Regions from separate parts of the Homo sapiens genome. Here regions 1, 2, 3, 4, 5 and 6 are each linked to region 7. The links come from fine-mapping of genetic effects on plasma protein levels. Region 7 holds a variant in brackets. A gene starts in each other region. All regions are shown on their reverse strands.

The links. PIP is the posterior inclusion probability: the model's chance that the variant is causal. The UK Biobank Pharma Proteomics Project read protein levels with antibody pairs (Olink). The fine-mapping took linkage between variants from a reference panel, not from the people measured, so its PIPs are less certain.
Region 1: COL2A1 starts here. The variant in region 7 is fine-mapped to the plasma level of the COL2A1 protein (UK Biobank, PIP above 0.99).
Region 2: SERPINE2 starts here. The variant in region 7 is fine-mapped to the plasma level of the SERPINE2 protein (UK Biobank, PIP 0.93).
Region 3: VSIR starts here. The variant in region 7 is fine-mapped to the plasma level of the VSIR protein (UK Biobank, PIP above 0.99).
Region 4: it holds the start of THPO, and the variant in region 7 is fine-mapped to the plasma level of the THPO protein (UK Biobank, PIP above 0.99).
Region 5: it holds the start of SCARF1, and the variant in region 7 is fine-mapped to the plasma level of the SCARF1 protein (UK Biobank, PIP above 0.99).
Region 6: it holds the start of PPBP, and the variant in region 7 is fine-mapped to the plasma level of the PPBP protein (UK Biobank, PIP above 0.99).

What each region holds. Positions count from the first base shown.
Region 1 is chr12:48,002,000-48,006,469 of GRCh38, reverse strand. COL2A1 (collagen type II alpha 1 chain) reads left to right here and starts at 1,994. Exons shown (of 54, transcript NM_001844.5): 1 at 1,994-2,233. The coding sequence starts at 2,149.
Region 2 is chr2:224,037,139-224,041,608 of GRCh38, reverse strand. It overlaps SERPINE2 (serpin family E member 2), which reads left to right and starts at 2,323. Exons shown (of 9, transcript NM_001136528.2): 1 at 2,323-2,510. It overlaps LOC124907991 (a long non-coding RNA gene), which reads right to left and starts at 2,207. Exons shown (of 2, transcript XR_007088103.1): 1 at 2,067-2,207. RefSeq lists a silencer at 1,863-2,157.
Region 3 is chr10:71,771,784-71,775,783 of GRCh38, reverse strand. VSIR (V-set immunoregulatory receptor) reads left to right here and starts at 2,264. Exons shown (of 7, transcript NM_022153.2): 1 at 2,264-2,426. The coding sequence starts at 2,345. The region is part of intron 38 of CDH23 (cadherin related 23); the gene reads right to left. RefSeq lists silencers at 2,035-2,364, 2,385-2,464.
Region 4 is chr3:184,376,493-184,380,884 of GRCh38, reverse strand. THPO (thrombopoietin) reads left to right here and starts at 2,678. Exons shown (of 6, transcript NM_000460.4): 1 at 2,678-2,810. CHRD (chordin) reads right to left here and starts at 831. Exons shown (of 23, transcript NM_003741.4): 1 at 419-831; 2 at 90-193. The coding sequence starts at 566.
Region 5 is chr17:1,643,272-1,647,741 of GRCh38, reverse strand. SCARF1 (scavenger receptor class F member 1) reads left to right here and starts at 2,010. Exons shown (of 11, transcript NM_003693.4): 1 at 2,010-2,145; 2 at 2,503-2,564; 3 at 2,807-2,908; 4 at 3,775-4,300. The coding sequence starts at 2,045. It overlaps RILP (Rab interacting lysosomal protein), which reads left to right. Exons shown (of 8, transcript NM_031430.3): 7 at 753-836; 8 at 1,123-1,592. The coding sequence ends at 1,300.
Region 6 is chr4:73,985,957-73,990,368 of GRCh38, reverse strand. PPBP (pro-platelet basic protein) reads left to right here and starts at 2,179. Exons shown (of 3, transcript NM_002704.3): 1 at 2,179-2,413; 2 at 2,717-2,852; 3 at 2,995-3,930. The coding sequence starts at 2,266. The coding sequence ends at 3,097.
Region 7 is chr8:105,567,328-105,571,797 of GRCh38, reverse strand. All of the region lies in intron 4 of ZFPM2 (zinc finger protein, FOG family member 2), which reads right to left. Among named protein-coding and RNA genes, the nearest start is that of ZFPM2, 250 kb to the right of the region's middle. The variant T/A (reference allele first, on the strand shown) is at 2,498.

The sequences.
Region 1 (4,470 bases), not on the chromosome of region 7:
ATGTGTTAGAATTGTGCTAGGCACAGTTCTTGTCCCCAAGCATCTTCCAAGCTCATTGATGAGATAAAGACCAATGGATATAAGGGGAAAAAATTAAAACTACACAAAAACATATGTAGCTTAGGCTATAAATGCCAGGGGGATTCAGAAAGCCAGGGAGACGTTGTGTTCTAGAGATATCAGAGAAGGCTTCTCAGAGGGGCTTTAACCTAGGAGGTCTTGATAAATGTGTGGAATTTGGTCATTCTATCTTCCAGGTAGAGAATATAGGACCTTCTGAGCCCCAAAGAGGACATGGGGCACTGATGGCAAGAGACCAGCTTTCTTCTAGCAGAGATTGGGCCTGAGGAAGAGCCCAGAGCTTAATGCAAGCCCCTGAATGGGAGCATGGAGACTCAGACAAGGCCCGTGGAAGGTAGGGGAGATGCTGGAAACTGGTTGAATTCTTCCCCATCTCCATCCAGACTGGACAAAGCCTAGAAGCATTTCCTTCAACAATGAGTTCTTTCCCTTTCCAACCAGAGCACTTGGAACTCCAGCCTCTACCAGGACAAGTGTCAAAGCATGATAGGCTAGGGATGGGGTCCCAGGACCCCTGGTGGAAGCCTAAGGCCCAGAAGTAGCTTCTTTCAAGTGCTCTCAGCTTCTAGGGGGAAAGCTCCAGAGAAACAAAACTGCCCAGGAGGGCAGAAGTTCTGGTTAAGTCAGACCCCAAATTCTGAGTTTCATTTTGCCTATAGTTCTTTGGGGGACCATATCGCTCAAAAGGAAGGTCTGTTTGGGGACGTTTCCTCCCTGGTATGAAAGGAGGCACCGGAGACCAAGAGAAGAGACCAGCTAAGCCCTGGGAAGAAGGCAGTTTGGCTAAGGTGAGAGAGGGCGCTCACCGGGGAAGGTGAGGTGAGGCGGCAAGCGGAGGGCTAGGGGGCCGACTGGGAAATTCTGGCGCTTCTCCCCGGCTCACAGAACTCGCCAGCTGGATCGGCCTCCCCGATCCCTGGCCAGGGCCGCAGCAGTGACCAACCGTCCCTGGCCAAAGCTGCTCTACGACGGCCGGCAGTGCCCACTCCCCGGGGGACTCCCGGACCCCAGCCAGGAAGAGCAGACACCACGTCTGAGCCTGGAGCTAGACAGTCCCCCCACAGCAGGCAGCTTGCACCGTTTAGTCTCGGCTCCCTCCGTCCTCTGTGGCTCTTTCAGTCCCCTTCCCAGGGCCTGCCCCTGCCCCCCACACCTTCACACAGGTCTCCTTCTGTGCAGTAACACACCAGCTCTTTTCCTGGCTGTCGGCTCAGGCCAACTTCGGCCTGTGCTCCAGAGGAAGCCTTCAACGCAGAGCTGGATGGGGGAGGGGTGGAGGGCAGTCGCTGTGAACGTCCAGGTGGGAGTCTGGGGACCAGGTACTGCAGGGAAGGGCTAAAAGATAGGTCGGGGTAACCCTTCAGATCTGGCTCAGCTAGCCTGTCTCCAAGATTTAGGACTCTGAATCTCTGTGGGCTCCTCCCTGTCCCCACTCCCAAACGCCTGACGCGGTGCCCCCTCGCCCTCCGCTGCTCCTTTCTACCGCTTTCCCTCCTCCCTCCCATGTCTTTTCCGTCCTTGGTCTAGGGCTCTCGGCCTGCGCCTCTGCAAACACCCCCTCCCCTCCAACTCCGGCAGAACTCCGAGGGGAGGGGCCGGAGGCCACCCTTCCCGCCTGTGGTCAGAGGGGGGCAGCGCCGCAGCCCCGGGTTTGGGGGGCAGGGGCCATCTCTGCGCCCCGCCCGATCAGGCCACTCGGCGCACTAGGGGTGGAGGGCGGGAAGCGTGACTCCCAGAGAGGGGGGTCCGGCTTGGGCAGGTGCGGGCACTGGCAGGGCCCAGGCGGGCTCCGGGGGCGGGCGGTTCAGGTTACAGCCCAGCGGGGGGCAGGGGGCGGCCCGCGGTTTGGGCGAGTTCGCCAGCCTCGAAAGGGGCCGGGCGCATATAACGGGCGCCGCGGCGGGGAGAAGACGCAGAGCGCTGCTGGGCTGCCGGGTCTCCCGCTTCCCCCTCCTGCTCCAAGGGCCTCCTGCATGAGGGCGCGGTAGAGACCCGGACCCGCGCCGTGCTCCTGCCGTTTCGCTGCGCTCCGCCCGGGCCCGGCTCAGCCAGGCCCCGCGGTGAGCCATGATTCGCCTCGGGGCTCCCCAGACGCTGGTGCTGCTGACGCTGCTCGTCGCCGCTGTCCTTCGGTGTCAGGGCCAGGATGTCCGTAAGTCTTCCCCCGCCCCTGCCTGCCTGCCTGCTTTCCATGCGTCCCTCAGCATCCTTCTCCCCGGCCCGCTCCAGCTCTGGAGCCCGCGGCTCCGGGCTAAAACGGCTCCCGGGGTCGTAGCGCGCCGACTTAGGCACAGGACACGCAGAAGTTCACCAAGAAGAGTTCTGCCAATCAAGGACTCTGTCCCAGGGTCCTCGGTGCCCATCGCAGTTGCAAGTATTTGCAGGTCCCTACGTTGCGCTAGAATACTGAACTTGCAAAGTGTTGGCTCGGAGAAGTTTGCGCACAGATATAAATGGGCTCTTTTCCACCAGCTTTGATAATTAGGCGCACATGCACACAGCTCGCCTCTTCGAAGCACTTCGAGTTCAGCAAAAACAGATCTCAACTCATCGAACTTAGGTGAAGTAGGAAAGAGAGAGCGCGAGCGAGGGAGCAAGCAAACGCCAAAGGGTTGACTTCACAGCCTGTCCAAGGCTTGGTGGCTGGTGGGCTCAAAGCAGAGTTAGACAAAGGGGACTAACACTCTGACACTGGTGGGCTGAAATCCCAGGCCACAAAGAACGGCTTCCGATAGGCCCTCTGAGACCTCAGCGCCTCTTTAGGGTACCCTCCCCCTCCCAGCTGGCCCTGGAGCAAGGTGCAGCCCTAGCGCTCATCTCGACTTCCCTCCGTCCGCCTGCGCCTCTCTTCTGATAAAGGGTACAGAAACTTCCAGTAGGAGAGGCCATCTGAAAGACGATAACATTCCAACCAGACCGTGCTTTTCAAATGCCCCCGAAAATAGCGCCCCCTTCCCCGCGGTCTTACCCCATTCCCCGCCGCCCCGAGGTACTACAATGAGTTACTTTTCTAAATTCTGGAACTCACCGAGCCAGGCTGCGTGGTGTGTGTGTGTGTGCGTGTGTGTGTGTGTATGTGTGTGTCAGGGAAGGGGAGCAGGCTGGTCGATTGCTACGGTTGCTACAACTATTTCAACCGGTATAGTTAGAGATGGCTCTTGTAGTCGGGTCCAAATGCTGTTCGGACTGCACCTTTCTACCCCTCCTTTGGTAAGGTCCACTGTCTGGGATTATATTCAGGACAAACGAAGCCTGGAAAGTGTATTAGGTAGAGAGGATTTTTTTTTCCACGTGTTTGGGCACGTTTCCGACGGCTGGGATTCCAGCCCTGTCTTTGTATGTTACAGATTGTAAATCAATCGCAGAGGGAAACTCTTCGGCGGGGGGAATAAAAGTTCTCTGCCTTCGAGGCTCTGTGGGCCCTCTCCTGCCACCAGGCTGTTTCCAGGGATAGCGTGGAAGGCGGCGGGCTCAGGCGGGCTTTCCGGTCATTAGCGCAGCGGGGGCAGGGCTGGAGCCTGCGGCGCAGCTGCGAGGAGCCGGGAGCAGGAGACTCTGGCCGGGTCACCCGGTAGTGCGCTAAGCTGGAGGCGCGCTCCTGGGCATTTGAGGAATACAGCGTGACTATACGTGGCCTGGACTCAGACTGACTATATTTTTGTACTACATTTACAAGCACACGCCCACAAAGCTGTCTTCTTGACTGACCCCTGCCTTAGTGCGCAATGGAATTAGCTGGGTGGCTTTAAAATAATTCTCAAATTCTCCATCCGGTATTAGGGTCGCTTGCTTAATTAGGCGGTAGAGCTCTCTCATCGCCGCATCTTTCCTGGGAGGGAGTGATTCCACAGCTTCTCCGGCCCAAACCTTCCAGTCGCTCCTCCTCCCAGAGGGAGTGTGATTCTGCATCCGAGAGGCTGATTTTGCGCCCTGGAGCATCCCACCTTTTATAACTTCCCCCGCCTGGGGTCAGCGGACCCAAAGGTGTGACGTGGGGAAATGCGCAGTCTGCGTGGACGTCAGGAATGTCAGACACCTAGAGCTCGGCCACACCCCTCCTCTCCATCTTTCCACGAGTTTGAGAAACTTACTGGCGGCGGCGTCTTTGACCCTCATCTGCATTTCAGAGCCCTCGCCTCCGAAAGTGCCCCTGGCTCAGGGGAGAGATCTCAATCCTCCTTTGTGAGGCTTGTTTGCATTGGGAGATTGGCAGCGATGGCTTCCAGATGGGGCTGAAACGCTGCCCGTATTTATTTAAACTGGTTCCTCGCGGAGACCTGTGAATCGGGCTCTGTGTGCGCTCGAGAAAAGCCCCATTCATGAGAGACGAGGTCCAGTGGGTTCTCTCGTACTCCCAGACCCCCTCTCCCACAATGCCCCCCTGTGCCC
Region 2 (4,470 bases), not on the chromosome of region 7:
ATGTTCCTTCGACACTACAGGAAAGAATGGGGAAGTAAATGTCAGTCATTAAAGTGTAACCCAAAGAGGTAAGTCCTAAGGACTTCTAACGTCTTTCATAGATGAAGAATTTGGACCCTATTTACACTCTAATTGGGAAAGCAAAAAAGGCTTGTTGTTGTTTTTTCTTGAAAAACATTGGCTCCTTCAAGACAAGAGACTGAAACTCTTCAAAATAGTAATTTTGTGCATTTCTCTCACTGGTTTGAGTAACTTTAGTAAAAATTTAAAGTTACACATAATTAACCAAAGTGTGTGAGATAGGAATCAACGTATCAATGTTAATATCCTGATTGTGATATTATACAATGGTTTTGCAAAATGTTACCATGAGGAAGACTTGGCAAAGTGTAAAAGAGACCTCTCTGAATCATTTCTTAACAACTGCATGCCAGCCTACAATTACCTCTATTACAAATTTTAATTTAGAAATGTGATTGAGACAGAAATGGATGCAGGGATTCTGGCACATTTTCATAATAATCTGGCTTCACCCACATTTCCCAGTTATTTCTCCAGTAGTTTCTTGAATGACTCCCTTCCATCTGGAAGAGGATACTCCCAGCTTTTCAAACACACTGAACGAGCTCATTCACACCTGTGGGCTTTCCCCCCTCCTTTGAATTGTTCCCAGCTCCAGCCCACACCGCCCTGACTGGACCAAGCACAATACTGTCACTGAAACAGTTCTTAGCATGTCTAAAAGTCACTTGGCTAGTAGTTCATCCACTCGTCAACAAAATTTATTGAGTAACTGCTATATGTGTGGTATGGCTCTAGGCACTAGGGATAGAGTGAGTTGGAAACAATATTGAAATTAGTTTCTCTTCCCTGGTCTCTGGGAGTATATTCCAATGAGAGAGAGTAGAAGAAAACTAGCAAGAAACAAGGTAAAAAAAAAATCAATTCATGATGAGGGTTATGAAGGAAGTCATAGGTTAGAGGGGATAAAGTGACTTTATCTCAAGTGGTCAGGGGAGGCTTCCTAGGGGAGAGGACATTTGAGTTGTGACCTCAAGTGTAAGGATGCAGACAACATAGAAGATCCTGGGACAAAAAGCATTTCAGGCACAGAGAATAAGAAAGTTACCCTGTAACTGAATATAAATATTTGGTATGACTGTAAAATAATTAAACAGATGCTCATTTTTGTAGACTGTTTGCTCCTTATTTTAGGACCAAGCCTCCCATAGCCTGTTTCCCTCTATGAGAGACTGAGAACACCCTTAGGCTGGTCCAGATTTTACACTTTTCAGAGCAACCCCTTCCCCAACACACACGTGCACACTCTGGCACGGCCACCTGCATGCCAAGGGGTGACTGCAGGCTGATCTTCCAAGTGGCTCTCATCAGTAGCTGTACCCTTAATCCAGGGCTGTGTATAGGGAGATTTACATTTCTTCCTCGCTGTTGGGGCCGTCTGCCTGCTAGCGACGATTCTACACTAACGGCTACATAAATTACTGTCATTAAAGTTGGGTCCTTGGGTCCCCAGAAACCTAACTAGAGGCAAAGGAGGAACCAACTAAGAGAGGTCCAGGTAACAGAGCCCGGAGCGGGACGGTCATTTGTTGCAGGCCCCTGGGGTATGTGCCTGTCTATCGCGCACCGGGTCCCAGCAGCAGTGGTTACCGGCTGAGAAGGGCTGGGTTCCCAGGACGCTGCGGGTACCTCATGCTATCACCATAGCCGGGAATCCAGTTTTCTGGTTCCCCTCGTCTGTATTTGCCTAAGGCGACTTGCCGCCGTTCCTCTGTCCCCTAGGCAGGGAGAAGTCAGCTCTAGGACACCCTGCAAAACGCCTCGAGGGGTTATCTGCCCCTTCCCGGCCGCGTCCTGGCACCGTTTCCCCATCACCCGGAGGACTGAGCGCTGTCTCAGGGCGCCCTCTGTCTCTTCCAGGGGGCAGCCAAGACGACATGCCCTGCGTCTCAGGGACGCGGTACGAGCCCTGGTATTCCCCCCGCCACCTCACACACCCCCATCCGGGAGACCCACGTGCAGCTGGGCCCGGGCTGGCGCCGCACCTCGGGGTCTGCGCGTCTCCCCGGCGCGTTCCGGGCGCAGCCCCACGACACGGACCCCTGGCGGGGCGGCATCCGAGAAGTCGCAGGCGGAGAGGGGGCGTCCTGGAGGCCGGGCGCGGGGACGCTGCGGCCCGCGGCCACACAAAGGAGGCGGCGGGAAGGCGGGGCAAGGCGGGCCGGGGGCGGGGGCGGCAGGAAGGGGCGGGGGCCCGCGCGGCGCCGCCGATAAAGCCCCCGCCGCCGCGGCAGCCAGCTTGCGCTGTGGGGCTGCCCGGGCTGCGCGGCGTCTGCAGGCGCCACCGCTGCCTCTTTCCGGCTGTGACCCTCCTCGCCGCCGCCGCTTGGCTGCGTCCTCCGACTCCCCGCGCCGCCGAGACCAGGCTCCCGCTCCGGTTGCGGCCGCACCGCCCTCCGCGGCCGCCCCCTGGGGATCCAGCGAGCGCGGTGAGTACAGGCTGCGCGGTGAGTCCCGGGCGCGGCCGGCGCTGCCCTCGGCGGGGGACGCTCCCCGGGGCTCCGCGCGCCACCGGCCCTGCTCCCTGACCTTGCGCCCGGCCGGGAAGCTGCGGGGCCAGCGGGACCCTGGGGCGCCGACGTCGGGGAGCAGAGAACTTTCTCAGCCTCCCGCGGGCCGCCTTGGCCGGGGCTGGGTGCTCGCCGGGCATCCCGGTCCCGCCCGCCGGGAGCCCCGAGCGGGACCCGGGCAGGGCAAGGCGGGGCCGCCCCGGGGTGGCGTCCAGTGATACCCGCAGCTGGGAGCACCGGGGCCGGCGTGGCTCCTGCCCGGCCATCCGAGCCGGCCCTGACCCTGAACCTGAGGTTTCCAGCTGCTCGCCGGCAACCCCTACCCCGGACTTAGGCTGCGCGCCGCCGGATGGGGAGAGACTGGCGCACTCTTACTTGTTACCTCTGCCTGGGCAGAGGGAGGTGACGCGCGGTGTGGGGAAAGCCTTTAACTTGGCCTCTGGCAGCCGATTTAACCCGAGCGAGCAGGTCTTTGCTATTTTCATCATCTGTAGAAACGGGAGTTGCGAGGCGGATGAGTGACTGCAGGTAAAATGAAAGTACGGTACTCAGAAATTCTGGAAGGAATTAGGCATTTAATGTGTCCACAAACTGAGCGGGGAAGGAAGGCTTCTATTACATAAGACAGCACTCCACCTTCAGGTATTATGGAAGATGCTGTTGAAGGTTTTAGTGTTTTAATGAACGAAACACATTCTTTGTGTGTGTGTCTCTGGAGAAATCTCGAATGCTGCTGTCTTGCTTTGGCTACTTTGCAGGGGACGTTCTTATATTTAGCATCAGCATAAAAAGGTGTTCGAAGGTGTGACTTCCTCTTTCAAGCCAAGAAGCCGTTTATTTGTCTGAATTGTTGTGGAACAATATATGTGATAATTGTGTACTTTGAAGATTTTATATCAAAACTTGAGCACAGATAACTGGAAGAATTGTCAACATTGCTAATTTGTATATCCTAAACCACACTTCGAAAATTGAAGACAGTTTCAACACTATCTGAAGGTCTAAATCAGTACTTATTTGCTATTTGCAGTATTTCAATAGAAAAATTTTTGGCTATGCAAATGAAGGTACTAACCTGAGTAATCTAAGGTTTCTTTTAACCCCCAAATTTTGATTCTTTGTTAAAATAATGTTTGAAAATATCGTACCATGCAGGGCAATTACTGAAGGTCATGAAAATGTCATCGTATTTTATTCTAAAAACAAAAATGAATCTATGCAGAAAATTTCCGTGTCCCATGAACTTCATATTAGTTTAATTTTAAAAGTACTGTCTCCAAAAAAAGCTAATTTTCACTTCCACACAAGGGTGATTAAATACCAGTCAGAGATTGTTTGAGGTGGTAGAGTTGGAAATGAGGTGGTGACCTGGCCACGTCCCTGGGTGCATCTCAGCCTTGCTGTCCTCTTCCAGCCAGTTCTTTTCCCATCGCATGGGGACTTTGGCTCTTGGGCTATTTCTCCTCCTCTAGACCTAAAGTCCATGTGGGGGACGCTCTAGATGCGCACTTCCTTGACTGTCTCAAATCCAGTGTCTTCCATGTACTCCAGCTACCAAGTCCTCTAAGTACCTCCAAGTCTTGCCCTCTCTTGAGATGCTCAACTTCTGAAAACTCTTAGTGCCTCCAACCCGCAAGCTCCTTCCTTCCGGGTTGCAAACCGGACTCCCACTGTAATCTTCAATGCAAGCGATCTCCAATGCTTTTCCTCTTGCGGGTTTGGCAGGTGACTTTGTAGCCCATTCTACCAGGAGAATAGAGGTCATAAGTATCTCCTCACGTCCTCCCCCATCTCCCCTGTACAGACTTTTCTGTGTTTACCCAGTCATCCAATAAATCTTCTTAAGCATCTACTGTGTCTGGGTACTTTGTTGGATACT
Region 3 (4,000 bases), not on the chromosome of region 7:
TGAAAACAAGCACAAACACATGATGGAGTGTGCAGGCTGCAGGGGCTGGGAGTGGAGAGTTTGAACAGAGTTGGGCCTTGGAGCCCCTCCTGCTCTGAGACCAGGTCTGGGCTTGGGGAGGGAAGGTGGGTTTGACTTCCTCTGGTCTCGGAGGGAGGAGAAAGTCAGTGCTCCAAAGGCCCTCTCAGCTGAGCCCTTCCTGTCCTGCCCTGGTGTTGAGGAAACAGTGCTTGAGGTTTCTGGACCATGGTCCTTGGGCAATGCCTGTGTCTCACCCTGATGCAACCCCAGGAGGCTCAGTGGTGGGCAGTGTGGTAGGGAGAAAGGAAGTGAAAAGGGGGGAGGGAACTGGGCCCAGCTCAGAGGCTCTATCCCCCTGGGGAAGGGGTTGGCAGGGCAATTGCTCCCCTTTCTCTAATTCCAGGCCCTCCCCGGCTGCTAGGCCCTGGGGAAGAGGGAGTCTGGTTTCAAGGGTGTCCTGAGCAAAGCCAGTCCAGGAAGGGTTGAGATGGGGTGGTGCTCTAGGATCTTGCCCTTAAGGGACCCCCCTCACTTGCCAGAGGATGTCAGGGTGAGAAGGGCCCGGTGTCCACCTGATCTCAGTTGGCTTTGTACCTCCCCTGGTGGAAGGGAGCTCATGCTATGCCAGCAGGAAGGGCCCTGGGCTGCCTTCCAAGGTGGGGTCACAAGGCCAGGAGCATGCCCAAGGACCTGGGTTATGTCCTGCCAGCCTCTGGGGCTCCCATCCTGGGGAGTTCACTGGCTCCAGGGGGACTGGGCCTGCACAAGTTCACTTAGTAATAACATGATGCCTCAGCCTTCCTCTGTTGTAGCCTTCCCTGCCCTTAGAGCAAGGGCTAAGGGCCTCCAGAGAGCCCGTGACTTGGATCAGGCCACCCACAAGGCCCCCAGGACTCCTGGCTCCCATTGAGTCCTGATACCCTGGTTCCTGACCCAGTCAGACTCTGAGTGTCCTCTGCCTCTCAGCCTAGGAGTCACCTATTAACCCAAGATCCCTAAAGTGCCAGAAAAACCCCTGGAAGCTTCAGCTAGACTGGGGTAAACTGAGTAAAATGGCTGTGCTCTTCCACTCCTGTGATCCCTGGTCCTGGCCACGATCACCTCTGCTCCTCCATCACACAATCACTCACTCACTCATTGGTTTGTCCATTCAGATAAAAGTGCAGTAAAACCTTCTCCACGCCCAGCTTTGTGCTAGGGTCTCAGAAACATCAGAGAGAGGTTTGTAGTTTCGCTCTGGAGGGCAGAACAGCCGGAAGAAGAACCAACTGCTGGTTATCTCAGGCTGGAGGTGGTAGCTGAAGGGGGTGTGGACAGTAAGGATTTGCCGGGAAAAAGGAAGGGTCAGGACATTTCGTGAAGTGGGAGGACTTGAGCTGAGCCCTGAGGGATGAGAAGAATTAGGAGGGGAGAGACATTCCAGTGGTGCCAGCAGTGCTGGGTGTGGGTGCAAGAGCAGAGGCACTAGAAGTTAGGGTGCATCAGAGTGTCCTGCAGATATCCAGGCACCAGGGAGGGAGGGCGGGTGCACAGCCAGGCGGACAGCTGAGGCCTCTGCCGGAGGGGAGCTTGCAGGATGTGCTGTGGGGCACGCCAACAGGTGTTGCCTGCATATCTGTGTGTGTCCCGGGGTAGGGATGTGCTGATCTTGGCGTGTAGTCCTGCACCTGTTCTGTGTGTGTGTGTGTGTGTGTGTGTGTGTGTGTGTGTGCGCGCGCGCATGCACTCAGGGTGCCTCAGGCTCTGAATCTACAGTTAAACTGGCTCCAGCTTGCCTAGCTCTTCACAATGTCAGATTTCATTCATTCACTCATTTACTCACTCATTCCACAGCTGGGAGTGCCTACCACATACCAAGCCCTGGTCTGGCTGGAGGATGTAGGGTACAAGTCTCTGTCCCCAGATCACTCAAAGGCTGGTGGCTGAGGGCAGATGCAAGCCATGGTAACGTCTATCACGCTGTTAGAGGTAGATCTACTTCTTAGGCTGCGCAGCAATAATAATTTCTCTCCAAAAGGACTGGGGGACGGTAGAACGGGCTTTAAACTGCCGATCAAGTGGAGCTGACTCGCTGGGACGCACGCTGGCTCCCCACCCACGGGGCCGGCCTCCGGGAAGCCCCTCCCACGCGGCCCTCGGAGAGGCAGTTCCCCCACACGGCCCCCCGGGGGCGCTGCGCGAAGGGGGCGGGTGCCTGGAGCACGGCGCTGGGGCCGCCCGCAGCGCTCACTCGCTCGCACTCAGTCGCGGGAGGCTTCCCCGCGCCGGCCGCGTCCCGCCCGCTCCCCGGCACCAGAAGTTCCTCTGCGCGTCCGACGGCGACATGGGCGTCCCCACGGCCCTGGAGGCCGGCAGCTGGCGCTGGGGATCCCTGCTCTTCGCTCTCTTCCTGGCTGCGTCCCTAGGTAAGGTCGGGGGAGGCGGGGCGCTGGGAAAAAGCTGGGAGAAGACAGCAGACTGGAGTGGGAACTGTGGGATGGGGGCGTCCTGGGGGCCCTCTCAGCCTGTGTGACCGTGCACCCCACTCCACCCACCGCCCAGAGGCTGCTGGGACCCCTAGGCAGGGTGCAGTGGCAACTGTGCCAAGTGCCCCAGCTAGGCATCGGGCACATCTGCATGCTCTGACAGCTGCCCAAGTGGCAGGCAGGGCTGTCCCCTGAGGGCTGCCTGTCCAGCCCTTCCCTGCCCAGAGAACCCAGGGCACAGGTAGCTTCTGCAAAGAAGGAGAGGCACAGGGTGGGGGCGGTCAGTGTGTTCTGGTGGATATCACTGGCTTTTGACAGCTGGCATCTTTCTGCCCCTCTAGTCTCAGGGCTCTAGTGTTGCAGAGGACACAGAGGGCGTGGTATGCTCAGCCAGTGCCCCATGCCCTGGTGAAACCCCTGGCTGAGCCTTGGTGGGCACTGGGCACTGGTCACGGTGGGTCCACTTTCAGACACAGAGGCAGCACTGCCCACCTGGTCCCTATTCTAAGGGTCTGATGGCCCAGGAATAAGTGGTCAGCTGATTCCTGCCATCCTAGCAAGGCTGCCACTCAGGGACCAGTGTGGAGTACTGGGGAGGATGTGGGACACTCTTCAGCTCAGCTATGAGCCCCTTCTGGGTCCCTGGATAAATTACGGCATCTCTCTGGCCTCAGTTTCCTCAGCTCAAACACAGAAGCCCACACAGGGAAGCACCATTTTCCCCTTCCAAAGTCCAGACTGTCAGCATGTTCAGATAGTATCCTGGCCCCAACACAGGGGCTCCCGGGCTGGGGGCAGAGGCCCTGGTACCCATGGCCTGGTTGCCTAGTTCTTGCCTGCCCAGAGCTGAAGAGGCTGGATCTCTTCAAAGAGCCTGTGGAACCAAACTTTATAGGGAGGGCCCAGGGAAAGTATGAGTCATGCAGGGACTCGGAGGGAGGCAGGAGGGAGGTGGAGGGCTTGGCACAGGGACCCAGTGGGCAGGATGGAATAGAAGGAGAGGGTGATAGGATAAGAGGGAGAGGAGGAGGCTGAACCTGGAAGATACCTTAGCAACCTGGGTGCCCACAGGCAGCTGGCTATCTCAGCACTTGGAGGCTGGCCTGGGCCTCTGAGGAGGAGGAGGGCTCCACATGTCACAGACACAGCTGCCCTAAGCCCCAGGGTGGATGCTTCTCAAGGTGACAGTCAGAGGGAGGAGGAGAATGGGAGGTGGAATGGACAGTCTCAGCACCAAGGCCATGGCTCATGGCAGGGCATGGCTTCCAGAAGGAACAGAGGATGGTGGCAGGCAGGCAAGCCAGCATCCCACCTGTCATGGGCCACCTGCCCTGCACTGCCCTCCCTGGTGGCCCTGTGAGACCCTTCCTGCTTTCTTGCCCACTTCCTGCCCTCACTTGGCTGGGCTGCCCTCTGTTCAGCAGCCCCAATTTGAGAAACATTTCTAGAGATCCAGGGCACAGGGACCCAGCTTGCAGAGCACCCAGTAGCAGAGAGGCCCCAAGAGGAGCTCA
Region 4 (4,392 bases), not on the chromosome of region 7:
TTCTCAGCAGCTCCGAGTCCACTCCGACGCCCGCGCGACCCGGCGCTCCCCACCCGCCAGGGCCCGGGCCGGCCGCGGGGTGCACTCACCGCCTCGCAGGCGCACAGCACGCAGCGCATCACCCCGAATGGCTCCCCTAGGTCCGGGTGCCACGTCTCGTCCAAGGCATAGACCTTCCCGCCGAAGGTGCAGCCTGCGGGGACGGGCTTGGCTGGAGGCCGCTGCCCAGCTCGCGCCGTGTGCCGCCCCGGGGGCTGCCCGCGGGTCCCGGGTCCCAGGCACCGCGCCCTTCTGCCCCCGCCCACCCTCCGGGCCGCCCGCCGCGCCGAGCCACCTGCGCCCCGCGCCCCCTCCGGGCTGGCGCTGACTCGCCCCGAGCCCGACTCCCCGCCCGCGCCTCCCCCGGGCGCCCACCTACCTGCCGCTCCCCGAACGGGCAGCGGCTCCTTCTCAGAACGGATGGGCAGCACGGGGGGCTCTGGGCCGGCGCCGCGGGCCGGCCGGGAGCCGAGCAGCAGCAGCCCGAGGAGCAGCAGCGGGGCCGGCGGGGCCGGGAGGCTCGGCATGACGCGAACGGGACAGCTGGGGAGGAGGGAGGGAGGAGGGCGCGGGAGCGGGCGGAGGGAGGGAGGCGGGAGTGCGGAGGGCGGAGGGCCGGGCCGGGGGCGGTGCGGCGGGAGGGGGCCGGGGCCGGGGCCGGGGCCGGGGCAGTGCCGCGAGGGGCTCGTCGGGCGGCCGCAGAGTCGGCGCCGGGCCGGGCGGGGCGGGAGGAGCGGCCGGGAGGAGCGCGGGCGGGCGGGCGCTGACCCGGGCCGTACGCGGCTCTACTGCCCCGGGCGCCGGCTCCGGCCCGTTTTATGCCCCGCGCCCGACGCCCCGGCCGGGGGCCTCCTCCTCAGCAAACGGGGCGGCGGCGGCAGCTCGGCGAGGGGCCGGGCTGAGCCCGGGGGGTCCGACCCAGCAGCAGCGGCCCGGATCGCGGGTGGGGGAGGGGAGGGAGGGGCTGGGACCGGGCAGGGGAGGAGGGAGGGGCGGGAGGGGAAGGGGGAGCGGGGGAGGGGGAGGGGAGGGACCAGGGGGCGCGAAGAGGGGGAGGAGAGGCGGGCCCGGAGCCCCCCGCTGCTGGCGGCCACAGGGCGGCTGGACCAGGAGGTCGGTGTCCAGCCCAGGAAGGGAGCCTCAGGCTAGGGAGGGGCAGAGGCTAGGCCTGAGGCCTGGACCGCTCTGTGAGCGAGGACCCGGTTCCGCCCGAAGGATGAAGACTTGTCTTTAAAGATGACAACGTACAGGAAAGGTCCATCAGCCGATCTCCCCCTGCCTGGGCCCACAGCGCCCCCCAAACCCTCACCACCCTCTCTCACTGCCTAGCCTGCCTCCCTACCTTCTCTCTGAGGTCGCTCCTCATTCTTGTGTTACCCAGGACAGGGACCTAGCCAGAAACCGGCAGCATTCCCCCTTCTGTGGAGTGACAGTATCTCCCTCTCATTGTAACTTATCCTCAGGCGCATTCGACAGTCCCCTCTTGCTTTCTCACCCCCTTCCTTCACCCAAGGGACCCTCTGCCTCTCCAGCCCACTCCCAGCCTCCTTTCTCTTGGTTCCCTGGTCATGCCTGCCTCCCTGTCTCCTGTCTCTCCCTCCCACACACACCCACTATCCTCCCAGCTATCCCAGCACCCTCCTTCCTAATCTTGGGAGACATCTCGTCTGGCTGGACGGGAAAATTCCAGGATCTAGGCCACACTTCTCAGCAGACATGCCCATCCTTGGGGAGGAGGAACAGGAGAGAGCCTGAGGAAGTTCTGGGGGACAGGGGGATGATGGGATCAAGGTCAGGCCAGGAAGCCCCTGAGGACAGAGACTGTGGGGAGACTGGGACTGGGAAGAAAGCAAAGGAGCTAGAGCCAGGGCCAAAGGAAAAGGGGGGCCAGCAGGGAGGTATTTGCGGGGGAGGTCCAGCAGCTGTCTTTCCTAAGACAGGGACACATGGGCCTGGTTATTCCTCTTGTCACATGTGGAACGGTAGGAGATGGAAGACGGAGACAGAACAAGCAAAGGAGGGCCCTGGGCACAGAGGTCTGTGTGTGTAGCCATCTAAGCCACTGGACCCCAGCAGACGAGCACCTAAGCTCAGGCTTAACCCAGTGCACGTGTGCGCACATACATGTGCCCCGCACCTGACAGTCCACTCAACCCGTCCAAACCCTTTCCCCATAACACCAACCCATAACAGGAGATTTCTCTCATGTGGGCAATATCCGTGTTCCCACTTCGAAAGGGGGAATGACAAGATAGGACTCCCTAGGGGATTACAGAAAGAAAAGCAGGAAAGCAAGCATCCTGTTGGATTTCAGCAGCAGGTATGATGTCCAGGGAAAAGAAATTTGGATAGCCAGGGAGTGAAAACCCCACCAATCTTAAACAAGACCTCTGTGCTTCTTCCCCAGCAACACAAATGTCCTGCCAGATTCCTCCTGGAAAAAAACTTCTGCTCCTGTCCCCCTCCAGGTCCCAGGTTGCCCATGTCCAGGAAAAGATGGATCCCCCTATCCAAATCTTCTCCGTGGTGTGTGTGGGTGGAGGAGTGGACCCTGGTCCAGGCAGGGGCTCCAGGGAAGAGAAGGCGTCACTTCCGGGGGCCTTCACCAGTGTCTGGTGGCTCCCTTCTCTGATTGGGCAGAAGTGGCCCAGGCAGGCGTATGACCTGCTGCTGTGGAGGGGCTGTGCCCCACCGCCACATGTCTTCCTACCCATCTGCTCCCCAGAGGGCTGCCTGCTGTGCACTTGGGTCCTGGAGCCCTTCTCCACCCGGTGAGTGGCCAGCAGGGTGTGGGGTTATGTGAGGGTAGAAAGGACAGCAAAGAGAAATGGGCTCCCAGCTGGGGGAGGGGCAGGCAAACTGGAACCTACAGGCACTGACCTTTGTCGAGAAGAGTGTAGCCTTCCCAGAATGGGAGGAGCAGGGCAGAGCAGGGGTAGGGGGTGGGGTGCTGGTTTCTGAGGGACTGATCACTTACTTGGTGGAATACAGCACAGCCCTGGCTGGCCCTAAGGAAAGGGGACATGAGCCCAGGGAGAAAATAAGAGAGGGAGCTGCACTTAGGGCTTAGCAAACACAGTAGTAAGATGGACACAGCCCCAATCCCCATTCTTAGCTGGTCATTCCTCGTTAGCTTAAGGTTCTGAATCTGGTGCTGGGGAAGCTGGGCCAGGCAAGCCAGGGCGCAAGGAGAGGGTAATGGGAGGAGGGCCCACTCATGTTGACAGACCTACAGGAAATCCCAATATTGAATCAGGTGCAAGCCTCTTTGCACAACTTGTGAAAGGAGGAGGAAGCCATGTGGGGGGTCCTGTGAAGGAACCGGAAGGGGTTCTGCCAAGGGGGCAGGGAGGCAGGTGTGAGCTATGAGACAGATATGTTAGTGGGCGCCTAAGACAAGGTAAGCCCCTAAGGTGGGCATCACCCAGCAGGTGCCCGTTCCTGGGCAGCTGGTCTCAGGAAGGAAGTCCCAGAACTGTTAGCCCATCTCTTGGCCTCAGATAATGGAGTATTTCAGGACTTGGAGTCCAGAGAAAAGCTCCAGTGGCTTTATGTGTGGGGGTAGATAGGGAAAGAATAGAGGTTAATTTCTCCCATACCGCCTTTTAATCCTGACCTCTAGTGGTCCCAGTTACAGCTTTGTGCAGTTCCCCTCCCCAGCCCCACTCCCCACCGCAGAAGTTACCCCTCAACATATTGCGCCCGTTTGCCAGTTCCTCACCCAGGCCCTGCATCCCATTTTCCACTCTCTTCTCCAGGCTGAAGCCACAATACTTTCCTTCTCTATCCCCATCCCAGATTTTCTCTGACCTAACAACCAAGGTTGCTCAGAATTTAAGGCTAATTAAGATATGTGTGTATACATATCATGTCCTGCTGCTCTCAGCAGGGGTAGGTGGCACCAAATCCATGTCCGATTCACTGAGGAGTCCTGACAAAAAGGAGACACCATATGCTTTCTTGCTTTCTTTCTTTCTTTCTTTCTTTCTTTTTTTTTTTTGAGACGGAGTTTCACTCTTATTGCCCAGGCTGGAGTGCAATGGTGCGATCTCGGCTCACCACAACCTCCGCCTCCCAGGTACAAGCGATTCTCCTGTCTCAGCCTCCCAAGTAGCTTGGATTACAGGCATGAACCACCACACCCTGCTAGTTTTTTTGTATTTCGTAGAGCCGGGGTTTCACCATGTTAGTGAGGCTGGTGGCGAACTCCTGACCTCAGGTGATCCACCCGCCTTGGACTCCCAAAGTGCTGGGATTACAGGCATGAGCCACTGCACCCGGCACACCATATGCTTTCATCACAAGAAAATGTGAGAGAATTCAGGGCTTTGGCAGTTCCAGGCTGGTCAGCAT
Region 5 (4,470 bases), not on the chromosome of region 7:
TCTCAGACTGAGGCTGTCACCCCAACCCGGTCACCCCTTGAGCCTCCCTAGCCTGGCCGCTTCTAGGGCCTGCTGACCTGCTCTGGCTGTGTCCCATGGCCGCTGTCCAGCCTGCGCCCTTCTCCCTGGATCTCACCACTCCCCTTGCCTTGCCTGCCATCCATTCTGCCTGACAACACTGCCTCTCCACATTCATTCTTCAAGTTCCTGTCTTGGCTGGGTCTGTTTATTCTTACGGGGGTGAAACTGTAGCCGCGGCTGTGTCAGGGCCTGCTGTGTGTCAAGCTATAAAATAAACCCTTGGCAGGGCGCGGTGGCTCACGCCTGTAATCCCAGCACTTTGAGAGGCTAAGGTGGGTAGATCACCTGAGGTCAGGAGTTCGAGACCAGCGTGGCCAACATGGTGAAACTCCGTCTCTACTAAAAATACAAAAATTAGCCGGGCATGGTGGCATGTGCCTATAATCCCAGCTACTCAGGAGGCTGCGGCAGGAGAATCGCTTGAACTTGGGAGGCGGAGGTTGCAGTGAGCTGAGATCGCACCACTGCACTCCAGCCTGGGCGACAGAGTGAGACCCTGTCTCAAAAAAAAAAAAATTAAAAATTAAAGGCTCGACATCCTGCATCTCCCCAGGGTTGCCTTCTCTCCAGCCCCGGGGGCCCTGCAGTCCCTCCATCCCCCCTGCTGGATTCCTGTTGTCCCTCAGGGCCTTGATCAATGGCCCTCACTTCTCCTCTCTCCTCTGTCTCAGTGAGGATGAGGCTGGCCCATGGATCCTGCTCTCCGATGACAAGGGAGACCATCCCCCACCCCCGGAGTCCAAAATACAGAGTTTGTATGTTGGGGAAAGGGGAAAGGCAAGAGTGTGGGGAGGGAGGAAGGGCCCTGGCTGGTCCTTCTCAGGATCCCCTTTCCCGCTTCTCTGCCCGTCACCCTGCTGTGCTTGGCTCTAAGCACACCGTCCCCTCCTGCTTCTCTGGCCCTGGCCCCCATCACCTTCACACTCCCTCAGGCTGCCCTTTCTTCCCCCTCTCCCCTTTTCTCACCATCCCCTGCCCTCACCCATATCCTTGACCTCTCTGGCTTCCTGGCTCAAAGTGCCTCTGGCTGTCTCTCTCCAGCTTTGGCCTATGGTATCGGGGTAAAGCTGAATCCTCTGAGGATGAGACCAGCAGCCCTGCACCCAGCAAGCTAGGGGGAGAAGAGGAGGCCCAACCACAGTCTCCAGCTCCTGATCCGCCCTGTTCTGCCCTCCACGAACACCTTTGTCTGGGGGCCTCAGCCGCCCCAGAGGCCTGACTTAGGGGTCTGGCTGTGGAAGGATGTGTGGCCTCAAATGAGGACAGGGCTCCCGCCTTCACAGCCCTCGCCAGGGGTCTGCCCCAATCCTGGCCTGCATCAGGGCAGGACGGGGTCTCAGCCCGCCTCCCTCTCTACGTCTCTGTACCGAGCCTCTGGGGCCAGATATAAGAGTGCCTCTCTGAGTCTCAGTTTCCCCATCCATGAAATGAGAGCTGACTGCCTAGCTCCCAGGGCTTTGTGCAGACGGCCTGAGCTCATGTAATAAAGAACTGCCCGTAATACACAGAAACTGTTCCTCGCCTGTCTGTCCATGTCTGTGCCACCTCCCAACCCTGCCAGGAGCAGAGGCAGGCTGAGGGGTCCTCGCTGGTCTCCTTGCTCAGTCACTGGGTGGGGTGGCTTCTTGCAGCTCAGGCCTTGCTTTGGGAGTGTGGCCTGATGGAAAGCCGTGGCTCCCAGCCTCAGTCCACCCCCTTCCCTGGCCCCGGCACCCAGGGACCTGCAACTTCATTCTTCTGGCCCTTCCAGGCCCAGGCCAGTCAGCCCTGCCATTGCCTTTCTTTCCCTTTCTTTTTTTGAGTGTCAGTCTTTCCAGCCACCCCCTCCCTCTCAGGGAGGTGCCTCGTGGCAGCCCGCCCCTCCGGCCTGGTTTCCTCAGGAAAAGCCCTGAGAGGAAGCAGGGAGGGGGTTGGGAGCTGTGGGGGCCAGACGAACCCGAGCGCTCCCACCGAGCTGCCTGCCATGGGGCTGGGGCTGCTGCTCCCGCTGCTGCTGCTCTGGACTCGGGGGACTCAGGGGTCCGAGCTGGACCCCAAAGGGCAGCACGTCTGTGTGGCCAGCAGGTGGGTCTCGTGGGAGTCTGATGCGTGTGGCCAGCAGGTGGGTCTCGTGGGAGTCTGATGCGGGTGGCTGAACCGGTGTTGAGGCCGTTAGGGGAAGGAGGAGACTAGGAAGGGGGCTTAGGCTGAAAGGAAGGGACTGCTGATGGCGGTCTGGCAGGTAGTGGCCAGCCAGGGCAGATGGTGGAAGGGTCAGGGAAGGAGAGGGGAGGGGCTGGGGACCCTAGCTGTAAAGATCCATTAGGCCTCCCCAGGGGGCTAAGGCAGCCTCCCCCACTGCAGCCAGAGACAGTGATCCACCTTCCTCAGGGCCAGGCTGCACCCCCCACCATGTCCGGCTGACCCCTTTTTGCCCCACAGCCCCTCTGCTGAGCTGCAGTGCTGCGCAGGCTGGAGGCAGAAGGATCAAGAATGCACCATCCGTGAGTAGCCAGGACAGACCCTCAGCCAAGGAGAAGGGAGGCCGTAGCCCAGTGACAACCCTTCCTTCCTACCCCATGGGGCCTGCCCCTCCTGATACCAGGAGTCAGGGTTTCTCCTGTGACGCACCCCCAGGCCTGAAGGGGCACCTCTTGAGGAGGCATGGCCCCTGGAGCCAGTGAGAGGGCAGGGGTGTCCCCTGGTCCTGCTCCCGTCTTTCCAACCTGGGTGGGGTGTCTTTCAGCCATCTGTGAGGGGCCGGACGCCTGCCAGAAAGACGAGGTGTGTGTGAAGCCGGGCCTCTGTCGATGCAAGCCTGGATTCTTTGGGGCCCACTGCAGCTCCCGTGAGTCTCAAGGGCCAGATGAAGTTGCTGGGCAGAGCTGGGTACGGGGGCAGTGGTGTGGGAGCAGGCGAGGCAGGTAGCCATGCAGCCTCAGGACAGCAGGGCCAGAATCCCCCCCAGCTTCACTGAGGAATTGCGGTCCAGAGACAGGAAGTGACACACACTCCCGGGAGATGACCTGAGTCACCGGGTTTTTACCCACATCCACAAAGCACTGCCCACCTGAGCATCTTCCTCTTCCACTTCTCAGAAAACCTGTGATTCCCCTTCATTGTAAAATGAGTGTATTACTTGCCTTTCCCACATATACCTTATACATGGGCAGTGGATGGAAGGGGGCCCCTGGCTGGGCTCTCTGCCCTCTCTGGCAGAAAGAGAGGGAAGGGAAAGGGGTTGGGAAGCAGGAGAGCCAGAGGGTGGGCATCAGGAATCAAGGAATCACTAGGGGAAAGGTGGCTTCTCCCGACACCCTGGCGGGCAGTATCCAGGCCTGAGATCAGGAGAAAGCCAGCTCTCCTCCAGCCCAGCAGAGATCCATCTCGGCAGGGAGGAGCAGGCATGGAGGAAGGCCCACCAACCTCGGTGCCACGCTCTGGGCAAGTCCCCTGCCCACTCAGGATCTCTGAGTGTGTTCTGGAATGTGAAGTGGCAGGCTGAGCCTCCCACTAATGGCTAAGGGTTTTCTGTAGGTCAGAGCGGAGCAGGAAGTGAGTGTTGCCCAGGACAGGCTGCCGGATGTTCTGAGGGTCTGTCCCCGGCTCTTGGAGGATGGGCCCAGCGCCCCTTTTCCTTGAGGAAGGGGACGCAGGGTAAGGGTCTGCGCGCGGCCCTGAGCCCGCTGACCCCTCCCGTCCCCACCCCCGCAGGCTGCCCGGGCCAGTACTGGGGCCCCGACTGCCGTGAGAGCTGCCCCTGCCACCCGCACGGCCAGTGCGAGCCAGCCACGGGCGCGTGCCAGTGCCAGGCCGACCGCTGGGGAGCCCGCTGCGAGTTCCCGTGCGCCTGCGGCCCCCACGGGCGCTGCGACCCCGCGACCGGCGTGTGCCACTGCGAACCCGGCTGGTGGTCGTCCACGTGCCGCCGCCCGTGCCAGTGCAACACCGCGGCGGCGCGCTGCGAGCAGGCCACGGGCGCCTGCGTGTGCAAGCCGGGCTGGTGGGGGCGCCGCTGCAGCTTCCGCTGCAACTGCCACGGCTCCCCGTGCGAGCAGGACTCCGGCCGCTGCGCCTGCCGGCCGGGCTGGTGGGGTCCCGAATGCCAGCAGCAGTGCGAGTGTGTGCGGGGCCGCTGCAGCGCCGCCTCCGGCGAGTGCACCTGCCCGCCCGGCTTCCGCGGAGCGCGCTGCGAGCTGCCCTGCCCGGCAGGCAGCCACGGGGTGCAGTGCGCACACAGGTGAGCGGGCGGGGCGGGGACAGGTGGGCTGGCGGGGCGGGGGCGGACACAAGTGAGCAGGCGGGGCGGGGCGGAGACAGGGGGGCGGGGCGGAGACAGGGGGCGGGGCGAAGACAGGTGGGCGGGGCGGACACCGGTGGGCGGGGCGGACACCGGTGGGCGGGGCGGGC
Region 6 (4,412 bases), not on the chromosome of region 7:
AGAAAAGCTTAAAATAAGGCAGAAAAACTCCTCATACCAGAGTTGTCTTCTTTTTCATTGGAGGGTACAATACCGAAGTTAAAATCATTAGCTACAGATTACAGCATACAGGCTAAATGTCTACATACAAAACAATCAATAAAACTTTTTGTTTCAGCTAAACTTAGAAATAAATCATTGTCCTATTTAGTGTCAGTAGGTTCTACAGTAATTAGTACATCAATCATTTGAGGAACTCGTAATAAAATACTTTACTCAGAGATAGAATGTCACCATCAAGTCACGAAACCTTTCCAGGGCGAGTTAATTTGGAAGTCTGCTTACTTCTAAAGTAAACTGTCAAATGTGGTCTGTAGGTTATCGCATTTAAAAACAGGACCTGAGAACTTGAGTAGACATAGTAGATAACTATTAAACAATAGGGAAAATTGGCTTGAAAACAAAAACATGATTTAAAAAATTACTATATTCATCTTTTTGATAGAGAGTAATTTTGAACATTTAGTATTTTAAGCATTTCTTCTAAAATTTAAGGATATGAAAAGTAAGAAAAGAATATGGAAAATTTAAATAATATTCTGTGAGACTTATACATAGTTGTAAAAGGAAGAAAACTTGTTGCCAGTGCCACTTACATCTGCCTCTTCTTTATTGACAATCTTCCAAATAAATTTAAATAGCATAGTTGCTTTGGGTCCTGTCGAGTTTGGCCTGGAATTGTAGGTGATTAGAAAGGATAGGGAAGCTTTCATGTGATACGTATTCATTGATTTATTAATTATTTAAGACCTACTTTATATTGAAGTATCCTACATGTTATAGGATACATGAGACATTCAAACAAACACAGGACATGCCACTCCCTACAAAAGTGCATGGTTCAATTGAGGAAGGAAGTCTTACAGATGGGACAGAGAACCAGAAAATAACATAAAGCCAACATGTAATGTGTAGGTCCACCTCTCTATCTTTGTAGGGATATAGCATTTCAGACCAAAACCTTTAATTTGGGTCTGAGAATTCAGGAACAAATATTTTCCTTGGTAAGGACATTTCTTGCACAATTTCTAATAGTGCAAAATTGGAAACACCGTGAAGGGCACCAACAAGGCAAGGTTGAGTAACTATTGTTCTTATCACAGGACGTCACATGGTCATTAAGAAGAATGGGGGAAAACTACATTAAGATGACCTGAAAAGATAAGGAACACATATTTTTTGAAGGATAAAAGTCAGCTGTATAGTGATCCATATACAATACTTCTATGTATATGTGTACCTCTATGTCTTAAACGTGTCTCATTGTATACATATACATGTGTGCATATAAGTGCAGACAGAATTGAAAACTAATGCAAAATTGTTACCAGTGTTTACCACTGAATAGTAGGAATGTGGAGAAATGATGAAGAGAAATTTGTGTTTTATTTCAAAGACATCTGCAGCATACGAATCTTTTGCAATAAATTATATAATTTTTCTGTTAAATTAAAAATAAAAAGAAAAATAAATATGCTGGGTCCTACTTTTTAGGTATTCTTAGGTGGTAGAAACAAGTAGCTTCTTTTGTAATATAAAGGAGGATGAGTTTCATTTGTAGTTTCTAGATGAAATTACAAAAGATAATATAGATTGAAGGCAGAAAGAATCCAATAAGCTAAAATCCAAAGACAACCTTTGACGGTAATTGGCTCTTATTTTACTTACATGCTCCAAACCAATCCCAATATTTATCAACATTCATGAAAAGAACATTTGCTTTCTTTGGCAAGCAAAGATAACTTTCTCTTTCAAGGGCCACATGTTTGTGCCTTCAGGTGCTCCTAAAGTTTCTATTAAGCCTAAAAACTGCAGTATAGAAAAGGCAGGGCGTATTGTTATAAATCATACAAAGAAAATGCATGTAGTATTTCAGTCTAGTTCTTACCTTCCTGAACGGAGTTCTTACACAGGTGTAAGGAAGATAAGTATTGAGAAAGGGAGAGTGGGAATGTGAAGTGATGCACATTAAGCAAGTTAGTAGGAATTTGACCTGTCTGGTCTTTCTCTGGGTTGGGCACAGCTTCAAATGCTTATGTGTGTATCACCACATACCCTCACTTCCTCCTTTCCTACCTCTTCCTTCTTACTGGCTTTGAGAAAGAGCATATAAATGACATCTTCAGGGCATGAGAAGCCACTTATCTGCAGACTTGTAGGCAGCAACTCACCCTCACTCAGAGGTCTTCTGGTTCTGGAAACAACTCTAGCTCAGCCTTCTCCACCATGAGCCTCAGACTTGATACCACCCCTTCCTGTAACAGTGCGAGACCACTTCATGCCTTGCAGGTGCTGCTGCTTCTGTCATTGCTGCTGACTGCTCTGGCTTCCTCCACCAAAGGACAAACTAAGAGAAACTTGGCGAAAGGCAAAGGTAGAGGCCCTGCTTCTCTGCACTTGTTGCTGCTTCTGCTACACCTGTCTCTGGGGTAAAGACTAGCTTGGTGCCTTTGGGGCTGGAGAGGGCCATTATACCAATAACTCCAATTGGAGGAGACACACAGGGGGGTCACTTCTCACTTCTTGTGTGCTGGGCAATCTTCTGGGCACTTTACTAAAGCGTTACAGATCATATTCACAATGGCTTTATGAGAGAGGTACAATTGCCCTCAATCTGCAAATAAGAGACCTGAGGAAAATATTCATGACCACCAATAGGTCACATTTTCTACCCTAGAGGAAAGTCTAGACAGTGACTTGTATGCTGAACTCCGCTGCATGTGTATAAAGACAACCTCTGGAATTCATCCCAAAAACATCCAAAGTTTGGAAGTGATCGGGAAAGGAACCCATTGCAACCAAGTCGAAGTGATGTAAGTTGCTGTTTCTGTGCTATTGCCTTATCAGAGAAACCCTCTACCTCCATCCACATATGCACTCGTTTCCTCCAGTCTCATGGATTAGTTCTGATATTCAGATCAGGACACCCACAGATAACCCTGTTCTCTTTTGCAGAGCCACACTGAAGGATGGGAGGAAAATCTGCCTGGACCCAGATGCTCCCAGAATCAAGAAAATTGTACAGAAAAAATTGGCAGGTGATGAATCTGCTGATTAATTTGTTCTGTTTCTGCCAAACTTCTTTAACTCCCAGGAAGGGTAGAATTTTGAAACCTTGATTTTCTAGAGTTCTCATTTATTCAGGATACCTATTCTTACTGTATTAAAATTTGGATATGTGTTTCATTCTGTCTCAAAAATCACATTTTATTCTGAGAAGGTTGGTTAAAAGATGGCAGAAAGAAGATGAAAATAAATAAGCCTGGTTTCAACCCTCTAATTCTTGCCTAAACATTGGACTGTACTTTGCATTTTTTTCTTTAAAAATTTCTATTCTAACACAACTTGGTTGATTTTTCCTGGTCTACTTTATGGTTATTAGACATACTCATGGGTATTATTAGATTTCATAATGGTCAATGATAATAGGAATTACATGGAGCCCAACAGAGAATATTTGCTCAATACATTTTTGTTAATATATTTAGGAACTTAATGGAGTCTCTCAGTGTCTTAGTCCTAGGATGTCTTATTTAAAATACTCCCTGAAAGTTTATTCTGATGTTTATTTTAGCCATCAAACACTAAAATAATAAATTGGTGAATATGAATCTTATAAACTGTGGTTAGCTGGTTTAAAGTGAATATATTTGCCACTAGTAGAACAAAAATAGATGATGAAAATGAATTAACATATCTACATAGTTATAATTCTATCATTAGAATGAGCCTTATAAATAAGTACAATATAGGACTTCAACCTTACTAGACTCCTAATTCTAAATTCTACTTTTTTCATCAACAGAACTTTCATTCATTTTTTAAACCCTAAAACTTATACCCACACTATTCTTACAAAAATATTCACATGAAATAAAAATTTGCTATTGACTTGTTGTCATCTATTATTAATTTTAACAGGATTGTTGGGGAAAAAAAGCTTTAATTTTCCTCTCTTTTTTGTATACTTGGTATTTCACAGTTTGAACAACAAAAGTTACTAAATTGATGATCGGTGTCATTCTTAATGTAGTATGATAACAGTTCCAATTTATTAATCATTTTAATATGCCAGGAATACTAAGTGTTTTCCATGCATGAACTAAACAATTTTTTAAAAGATAGATATGATCTGGTTAAAAGAACATCCTCTGGAGTTTGAATAATGAGGTAACCTGGCTCTGCCACTTGTTAGCTGTGTATATCAGGTCATGTTGCTTAATTTCTCTGTACCTTAGGTTCTTCATCCCTAAAATGGGGATAATATTGCCTCCCTCATAGAGTTTATGGAAGGATTAAAAAAGTTAATAAATTTAAGGTATTTAAAATAATGTGTGTCATAAATAAGCCACACATAAATGTTAGTAATTATT
Region 7 (4,470 bases):
TGACAAAGCATTATCCCTAAGTAATTTTGATTTTTAAGACCAAACTGAAGGAGTACAAACTGGTACCTATCTCCATTCTCTCTGTTATCATCTCCAAGTTACTGAATGTATTAATTGTCATGTCAAGCTGAGATTGATGCTAAGTCCTCATAATGCTGGCACAATATTTGTTACAACCATGTAAGCATATCCTGCCAAACTAATTGTTTTGAAATCAGTATAGAATGACAATTCCTCAAAAACATCAAATAGAAAGAATTTAAAAGGCATGCCAGACCTATCAGCACATAACAGAGGACAGTTTGGTCAACTCCATGAACAACTCTTCCTCACAGTGCTTTGTTACTTCTACCTTCCCCTCCAGGGAAAACTACATTTCAAGATTGATATTTTAGAATTTGTGTTACAAAAACAATAGTTATGCTTTACAAACCACTTCCTCACTAGTCAAGATGGTGATAGATTTCCCTAGAGAGGCAGGGATGCTATATATCCACCCACTTCCACCTTAGGCCTTCATGATTCTGTTTTTGGCAAATACGAAGAAATGACAGTAGCAATGAAATCTGCATTAAGAAAATTCATGTAAGGATCCCTATGTGTGGGAACAATCACAACTCCCACAAACAGTATCTGGAGCTATAAATCAATAGTGATTCTTCATCCTTCACACCGATCCTCTGTGGGAAAAGGTTATGTGACTCATTTGTCTCAACTTTACACACATAGAGTGGATCAGCTTTGATCATCTTATGATGACATAAACAATTCCTCCTTTCAGAAATTAATTAAATTAATAGCACTAATCGTCCTAATAACTGAAAAGATCATCTTCAACAAAAGTTCTCCTTGGAGTTCTGGGAAAAGGGAACAATGAATAATCTTGTAAAAATAATTCTTTTTAAAAGTTCAAACTTGGCCTAACTAAGGGTAAATAGGTTTAGCCATATAAACCAAAGGCCAAAATGTATTAAAATTTCAGGCAGAGGAGAGTAAGTTAGGTCCATAAATAAAATTGTCTATGTATAGCAAGGAATTGTGTTTCCACCTTTCAAATCCAAGTCCAAATGTAAAGAACCTGGAAAGACTTCACCATCAGGAGAAAAAGTAAGTCAGGATGAGATTGAGGTTAACAGGCTAGCTATACACAAAAGGTATTATTTTGGAGGCAAGTAAAAATTATCAGGAAGGGCACAAATTCAGGTTTTCATTTCAATACCATTGTGCCATATGACAATGTATTTTCATCCACTGCCAACATCATAACTATATCTGCATTATAACACAGCAAATCCCTTCAGATTAATATGCAATTGACCTCTCTGGCTTCTACATATTTCAATTGTGAAATAATTCTTCGGTGTTTAATTTCTTCCTTTCTGACTCACATTCAATAGCAGGCCTTTGATTACTGAGGCCTCCACACAAACTTCTTTCTCCTCTTTCCCTGAGTAATCCCCCTCCATCAAAAAAAAAATAAATAAAAATAAAAATCAATAAAACAACAAAAACCCTACCCTAATTCTAGAAACCAAACCAACGCATCACTTTCCAAGGCTCTGCTGCATTACATTTCTTGCCTTCAAGTCTTCTTTGAGCAGCTTTTCTGTCCACTCAGTTTCCATTAATTCTCCACATAGCAGATAGAGTATAAGAGAAGCCAGGATCTTGCCCTCCCTAAGGGACAAATCTACAACCTCCATCAATAATGAATTTCACCAATGTTTCCCAAGAGGAACAGGGTACAATTAAAAAGGTTATAAGTCCTTGCACTACTAGAACCTAAGGGCGTCTGTGAATGAAACTGGCTTAAGCCCAATTAGAGGAATCAGTACATTTGTCTTCTCTTGGAACAATCTTGCTCTTACGGTTCCCATCAATTCAGTATAAATCTGACTGATCTTATCCAAGAAGTTAATAGAAAATTGCTCACAGTGGGCGACTGCCACCTCAGTTTCCAAGCAGAGACAGATGGAATTTCCCAGATGGTTTGTCACTGGAACGTGTGAGGCTGGATGAGACTTCACAGAAAGCATGGTAGAGCAGAACACCTTCTTGGCCTTCACCCATGTCATAGTGAGGGATCTAAAACTGAGTCTGTTGTAAACAAATCATAATTGCCTCACTAGGCGCAACACCTCATCCTCCTAGCTGCATCCAAGGGTTGCAAATCTTACACCGAAATTAGTCAACTTTTCTCAAGAAACCATCATGGGCATATCTCCTTATGAGATAAAAACTGAAGAAATAGACATAGTTATCTTGTCCTACTGAAGTTTCCTCTCAAACGAGACTAAAATAAAAGTGCAAGTCTATAAACAAATAAAACAGGTACAAGATAGCATTTCCTGTGGTAATTGCTCTGCTGAGTTAGGCAGATGAAGCAAGATCACAGACGAAACAGACATGGATGTAAAGCCTCAGGAAGGATGCAGGGTCTTGAATAAGGAGGGGTGTGCAGCTGTTCCTGATATGGAGAAAAGTGAAAGGAAAAAAT[T/A]AATGTGCTGATTCATTCAATGTTATTCATTGAGCTCTTAGTATAAGCTAGACATTGTTCTAAGTGGGAAGGATAGAAAGATAAAAAATAGATAATAAGCATATGGTCTGCAGGGGAGATAGACAAGCAAACAGGAGCTCACAGTTATGTGATCAGTGCTCTTATCCTAGTAAACCTAGAGCACCAGGGAAATACTCCAAGAGTGGTTATCTATTCCAGACAGGAGGCTTCAGAGAAGGTCTACCTTGGAAGTGACTTTGAGCAGAGTCTTTAAATAAGTATTGGACTTAGTGAGATGAAGAGAGATAGGTGGGGAGGGGGGAATAGGGGTTTCCAGGAGGATAAAACAGCATGACCAAATGTACGGATGTGGAAAAAAAATGGACATTCAGGGCACTGCATGTAGTTCAGAATGCCTAAAGTCTATAAGAGAGTGGAAAAGGGGTCAGAACTGGGGAGGTGAGCATCACCTGGGGAGGTGAGTAACAGGAAGGCCTTTTTTAGGCTTTACCAAAACCTTGGGGTATTCTCGTGCCCTTTAGAATGATTTTAAAGCACAGGAGTTAAGTGACTACTGTAGTTTTGCTTTCAGGACATACTGTGGTCTGAGTAAATAAAAAGATGACAAGAGAGAACAGAAGAATATTGTAATAATCAAGAGAGAAGCGGTGGGGCTTTCGACTAAAGCAGTGGTAGCAGGACAGAAAGAGGAGAACAATCATTACGAAAGCAGGAGTTATGATGCTTGGTTTCTGGACATGAAATGGAGAGTCTTGGAAGATGTTTGACTCTGAATAGAAGGAAAAAGAGATGGTAGTAGTTACAGGCAAAAGGAGAGAGGTATGGGTATGTGTAACTGTGTGTGAATAGCATTTGAGATGTGAGAAGGAGAGGTAGAAATGCAGAAAAGACACAGGATAATTGAGAGAATGGACTCCCTGCAGAGGTACGAAAGGAGAGGCAGAGGACTAGGATTAAAGGTGACTGAAAGCTGGAAGTCATGGAAAAGAGAGGCTGTCTGTGGAGACAGGAATAAACTCTCTTTGTGACTGTGTAGTTGGAGGAATTAAATGGGAAAGCTTGCAAAACAGTTGAAATGTGCTATTAGAGAAAGGGTAAAAAGCCAAGGTTAGAGATTTTTTTATTTAAATGTCATTTGTAAATTAGTAGCTGAAGCTTTGCAAGTGGATAAGCTCCCTGAGGCACTGGGAACAGAGGGAGAAGAGAAGAAAGGCCAGAAGTGTTTTGGGAAACACTCACAGTTAAATTAAAAAGAGCTAAGACCCAGAGAGATATGAGAAATAGGAAAGTATGGTAGTCCTGAGCCCAGATTAAAATGAATATTAAGAAGGAAGATATCATTCACAATGTCAACATCAATGAAATCTGAGGCTCAACAAAAAGTCATGCCTCAGCAAAATTATAAATTATGCCATTGAGATGGGAAAGATGGAGAATATGGGTGGAGTCAGTGAGAATGTTCCTGATAAGCAAATTCAATTCGATTAGATTTTTATTTTAAAGAGCAGTTATTGAATACCGATTATGTACCAGTAGTAGAGGTCCAAAATTGAATAATAAAGATTAAATAATTCTATGTCCTCTAGAATCTCAATAATAATTTGGATATTGCTTTTAAATTTATTTCATTATTACATCTTAGAGGCTGTCTTAGTATGGATTCCCCAGAGGCTTACCCTGAGACTGATTCAAATACAAGTAGTTTACTGGGAAGTTGATCCCAGAAAATTCCAGTAAGGTTGTGGCGAAGTAAGCAGGAAAGGGAAGAGGTCCACAAAATGTTCACTATCAAGGCAATCAGAGCTCAATTCCACTGCCAAACTCTAACAGACAATATAGAACACATCTTATATCCTAACCAAGAGGAAGGGAAGCGGAGGTGTTAGTCCACCAACTTTCTGTCCATCATTGGTTGAGGATAACCTTTGGGAATAGGAAATCTCCAGCACTTC